2 separate regions of the Homo sapiens genome follow, and region 2 is linked to region 1. The links come from fine-mapping of genetic effects on gene expression. A gene starts in region 1. The other region holds a variant in brackets. All regions are shown on one strand. Distances are between the middles of the regions.

Region 1 (2,928 bases):
GTAGGTTGTTGCTTGTTACCACATCCCTCTATAGCTGATGATTTGCTTGCCAGAAACACCATTAACATGGGGCACTGGATTGGGAGAGAGATGGAAAATGGGAGGACATTCCTACAATAATACTTGCCAGAAAATCTGCCTTCCACAACAATTCCGTTCCTGCTGTCTAATACTCATTTTCTGAGTTAGTAATAGCAGAAATTACTATAAAAGTAGGTAATTTCTGTCTTTACAGAGAGGAAATATAGGCTGGGGGTTTAGTCATCTTCCTTGTCATCATTATCAATGTCTTCATGTTCATTAATATCAGCTAACTTTTGTCATTGTTAGACATCTATTTTGCATAGTAGGTATTTCCAGAAGTACCTCGTGATTATATGTGTATATACGTATAACATATATGATATACATAAGGAGAAATAAATCAATCTTAATGGGTTGCATGAAGAGTTGTATCCTATATAAACCTTTTGAGAATTAGAGCAACACACACCAAATTTCTTTTTCTTGTTGGTTTAGAGTGTTTTGATGGGTAAAAGGGAAGAGTTTTTTCTATGATGGGAAAAATATTTTCCTCATAATGATCTTCTTATATGTTTGTTGAAGAAAAAAAATCAGTCCTTTTTTTAAAAAATGGTTGCAATAAATGCAACTTGTGTGTGTGTGTGTGTGTGTAGTTGACAGACAGATACTTCCACAAAAGGTTCCTGAATTGGTAAAAGTCTCAAGTCTCTGATCTGTGCTCATGAGCTACTTAAATGCAGCAGAATCACATACACAACACACAACAGAAAAACTCAGAAACTCCTACTCAAAAGGCCCCTTGATGGTGACACATTCCTTGGTAACCCAAATAGAAGTAGTCAAATATGATAGCCTTTGAATTCCAGGCTGAAGGGTTCATAGAAGAGAAATTCTAAAGAGAAGAGTGGCTGACCGAGGGGCATCTCTCTCCACAGTTAGGACTGGGGACTTGGCCTGGTCTAAAAGCATGGGAGATACTCTCTAAAAGAGTAAGGAGGCCTATGGCACCAAACCAGCCTCTCAGGATTGACTGACCTGGGAAAGGCCCAGAGCCTCTGGCTGAAATTTGGCTGGAATATGTTAGGGGCTAAATGTGGGGCAGTCTTGGAGCCTTTGGTGCCAAAGTTCTTCCTGAGGGACTGAGCAAAGCGTGTTCAGAGGGAGGCTTGAAAGGTAAGTACCCATAGCCTTAAACCCCTCTGTTTGCTGTACATTGAGACCTTAGCCTGGGAAAAGGGTCTGATTTACAGAAAGTCTCATATAGTCACCCCCTCTCCCACTAGTGCCGAAGAGGCTATCTGGGAAGCTCATCATCCAGCTCAGGAAGAGATGAAACCAGGAGGCAGGAGAATGTCAGGCATGACCCCACACTTGTGCAACAGCCACGTCCTGCTCCTGCCATTAGCATGGCTCATCCGAGGCCCAGCCCCAGGATCCATACAAAGTGTGTTCCTGCTGCTGGCTTCTCATCTGCTCTGCTTCCTAAGGGACGTATCTGTTGCTGCGTCTGAACCCACGGTGAGTGTTTCTATAGGAATCCAGAGGGGGACGCTAGCGGGATGAAGATGGAGATGGAGAGTAATTCTGGAAGTCGAACAGTGAAGCGTGGAGTAGGAGGAGGATGACATGGTGGACAAGGCCAGAAGGCCAGAAGTAGTAGTTGGCTCTGGACAAAGCAGGAACCAACCTGGGAAGGATTATCCCTGTGATCAGACAGGAAGATGATGAATGACCTGGGATTGCTACATCCCTACCAATGGTTGGCCTGCTGGTCCTAAGCCCATTGCTCTGAAGGAAGCTTTTCTCTAACCGTGCAGATCTCAAATTTATTATTATTTATTAAACAGATTTTCTACGAATTTCTGAATTCCATTTCTAGATAAATTCATGTGGGTAGAATTGCAATGTATTTAACATGTCTTTGAGATGGCATTCAAATTTTGCTGGCTTTATTAGCTCAGAAGTCACTTATTAACCACCTAACAAATACTAAGAATTTTTGAAAGCTCTAGGGGTACAAAAGTAATGAAGATATACTCTTTGTCTGAAAGAGGTTTCTATACATGTCCATATTTTAGATATTCCTCTTCATCACCTTGGGGGAGGATTTTAAAATAAAAAAAAATGTAATGGCTCTTGATATTAAGTTTCTGTATATGTTTCTATTTTGTCATTCAGGTTTATCGAAATCCCACCAAGATGTCCTGCCAGCAGAACCAACAGCAGTGCCAGCCCCCTCCCAAGTGTCCTATCCCCAAGTATCCCCCAAAATGTCCCTCAAAGTGTGCATCCTCATGCCCACCTCCAATCTCTTCCTGCTGTGGCTCCAGCTCTGGGGGCTGTGGTTGCTGCAGCTCTGAGGGAGGTGGCTGCTGCCTGAGCCACCACAGACACCATAGGTCCCACTGCCACAGACCCAAGAGCTCCAATTGCTATGGCAGTGGCAGTGGCCAGCAGTCTGGGGGTTCTGGCTGCTGCTCTGGAGGGGGCTGTTGCTGACCTGGACCAGGAGCAGCACCAAAGGAATTAGTGGGCGAAGGACCCATTGCAGCCTGGTGTTTTACCTCCTTCACTCTCTTGCCTTTCCTTTCTGTAGCCCCATCAATTGAATAAACATGCAGGTTTGCGTCTCATCAACTTCAGGCCTTGGATTTGCATTATTTTAGCTTTATGTCAATATTTATATTTCTCAGATTATTGAAAAATTTTCTGATGTGCTTTGCAACAGTAAATTTACTTTCAAGTAATTTTCTAGTCCCAGTTTGATGGTGGTTTTTATTCCACTTTTCTTCACTTTTACCTAAATCCCAATCCTTTTCCTAGATAGAAAGATAGATTTATAGCTTTTACTGAAATAGAGAAAAATCAACCAATTAAACTTTAATGAATTACTTATTTGTGTAC
Region 2 (2,928 bases), 73 kb before region 1:
TATTAAAAAAAAGTTCAGTATCATTGACCATTACAGAAACACAAATCAAAACCACAATGAGATGTCATCTCACACCAGTCAGAATGGCTACTATTAAAAAGCCAAAAAATAACAGATACTGGCAAAGTTGTGGAGAAAAAAAAATGCTTATACTCTGTTATGGGAGTGTGAGTTAGTTTAACCATTGCGGATAACAGTGCAGTAATTCCTAAAAGAGCTAAAAACAGAACTACCATTCAACATAGCCATCCCATTACTGGGTATATACCCAAAGGAATATAAATTGTTCTACCATAAAGATACATGCACACATATGTTCATTGCAGCACTATTCATAATAGCAAAGACATGGATTCAACCTAAATGCCCATCAATGACAGATTGGGTAAAGAAAATGTGGTACATATACACCATGGAATACAATGCAGCTATAAGAAATAATGAGATTATGTCTTTTGCAGGAACATAAACAAAGCTGGAGACCATTATCCTTAGCAAACTAATGCAGGAACAGAAAACCAAATATCACACATTCTCACTTATAAGTGTGAGCTAAGTGATGAGAACACAAGGAGGGGAACAACAGACACTGGGGCTTACTTGAGGTTGGAGGGTGGGAGGAGGGAGAGGATCAGAAAAAGTAACTATTGGGTGCTAGGCTTAGTACCATGGTGATGAAATAATCTGTACAATAAACCCCTATGGCATGAGTTTACCTACATAAAAAAACTGCACATATACCCCTGAACCCAAAATAAAAGATAAAAATTAAAAAACTAGAGGAATCATATTACCTGACTTCAAATTATACTACAGAGCTATAGTAACCAAAACCGTATGGTATTGGCATAAAAACAGACATATAGACCAATGGAATCAAATAGAAAATCCAGAAATAAATTCATATATCTCCAGTAAACTCATTTTTGACTAAGGTGCTAAGAATATACATTGAGGAAAGGACAGTCTCTTCAATAAGTGGTGCTGCAAAAACTGGATATCCATATGCAGAAGAATGAAACTCAACCTATCTATGGCCATATAAAAAATCAAATCAAAATGGACTAAGACTTGATGGACTTAGACCTCAAAATATGAAACTACTATAAGGAAACATTGGGGAAACTCTCTAGGATGTTGATCTGGGCAAAGATTTCTTAAGTAATATCCCAAAGCACAGGCAACAAAAGCAAAATGGACAAATTGGATCACATCAAATTAAAAAGCTTCTGCACAGCAAAGGAACAATCAATGAAGTGAAGAGACAACCCACAGAATGGGAGAATATATTTGCAAACTATCCATCTGACAAGAGATTAGTAACAACAATATATAAGGAACTCAAAAAACTGTATAGGGAAAAAGTCTAATAATCTGATTTTATTTCATTTATTTATTTTCTATTTT[G/T]GGGATAGAGTCTTGCTCTGTCACCCAGGTTGGAGTGCAGTGGCATGATCTCAGCTCATTGCAAACTCTGCCTCCCAGTTCAAGTGATTCTCCTGCCTCAGCCTCCCCAGTAGCTGGGATTACAGGCCCAAGCCAACACACACAGCTAATGTTTGTATTTTTAGTAGAGATGGGGTTTCGCCATATTGGCCAGGCTGGTCTCAAACTCCTGACCTCAGATGGTCCACCTGCCTTTGTCTCCCAAAGTGCTAGGATTACAGGAGTGAGCCACCATGCCTGGCCTAATAACCCGTTTTTAAAATTGGGCAAAAGACATGAATAGACATTTATCAAAAGCAGATACACAAATGTCAAACAGGCATATGAAACGGTACTCATCGGCGCTTGTTAGAGAAATGCAAATTAAAACTGCAATGAGATATAATCTCACCCCAGTAAAAATGACTTTTATCCAAAAGACAGGCAATAATGAATGCTGGAGAGGATGTGGAGAAAAGGGAACACTACTGGTGGGAATGTAAACTCGTACAGCCACTATGGAGAACAGTATGGAGGCTCCTCAAAAAACTAGATATAACTACCATATGATCCAGCAATCCCACTGCTTGGTATTTCTCCAAAGGAAATGAAATCAGCATGCCGAAGAGATATCGGTGCTTTTATGTTTATTGCAGTACTAATCACAATAGCCAAAATTTGGAAGCAACCTAAGTGTCCATCAACAGATGAATGGATAAAGAAAATATGGTACATATATACAAGGGAGTATTATTCAGCCATAAAAAGAATGAGATCCTGTCATTTGCAACAACATGGATGGAACTGGAAGACATTATGTTAAGTGAAATAAGCCAGGCACAGAAAGACAAGCTTCTCATGTTTTCACTCATTTGTGGAATGTAAACATTCAAGCAATTGAAATCATGGACATTTTATATACCGTTAGATGTAAAAGAAGAGAAGACCTGCTTTTGGAAATGGAAAAGTAGGTTACTTTATACAAAATTTCCACAGAGAATAACTGTAAAAGCTAGAAAAGACAAAATAAAATATCTGTCTAAATATGTCATCAACCTATCAATTCAGTGAAGATTTTTGGGACCAAATTCTAAAAAGCAGAGAAGCCAAGAGACAGCCTAGAATGTAACACAACTTTTCTCTTGATACATTTGCCAATTCTGAAAAGCTGTAGCTGGAAGTTGAGAATATGAGTATATCTGTCAGAAAATTCATAGGGGTCAGGGAGGAGGGAGGACGAAAATTAGATTTAGGGCTGTCAAGAAGGAGGGGTTCTGGTAAACACTCCAGGATTTGGTTGGAGCCAGAAGGGCTATAAACTATGAATGAGGAGAATCAGAAATAGAACATCCTGGCAGGGCACAGTAGCTTATGCCTGTAATCCCAGCACTTTGGGAGGAGGAGGTGAGGGGGTCACTTGAGCGCAGGAGTTGGAGTCTAGCCTTGGCAACATGGTGAAACTCCGTTTCTACTAAAAACACAAGAATTAGCCACAAAAATTAG

Which allele goes with the higher level. Positions count from the first base shown, and alleles are read on the strand shown. Sizes are in standard deviations (SD) of each study's normalised expression.
For the expression in sun-exposed skin of the gene that starts at base 1,308 in region 1, T is the low allele of the variant in region 2 and G is the other (small effect, 0.28 SD a copy in GTEx).

The links. PIP is the estimated chance that this variant, and not a neighbour inherited with it, causes the effect. A credible set is the group of variants that fine-mapping cannot tell apart.
Region 2: its variant is the best candidate, but not a certain one, in a credible set for the expression of LCE4A in sun-exposed skin (GTEx, PIP 0.57).

What each region holds. Positions count from the first base shown.
Region 1 is chr1:152,706,853-152,709,780 of GRCh38, forward strand. It overlaps LCE4A (late cornified envelope 4A), which reads left to right and starts at 1,308. Exons shown (of 2, transcript NM_001387222.1): 1 at 1,308-1,542; 2 at 2,203-2,582. The coding sequence starts at 2,224. The coding sequence ends at 2,523.
Region 2 is chr1:152,633,448-152,636,375 of GRCh38, forward strand. No RefSeq gene overlaps it. Among named protein-coding and RNA genes, the nearest start is that of LCE3A, 12 kb to the left of the region's middle. The variant G/T (reference allele first, on the strand shown) is at 1,408.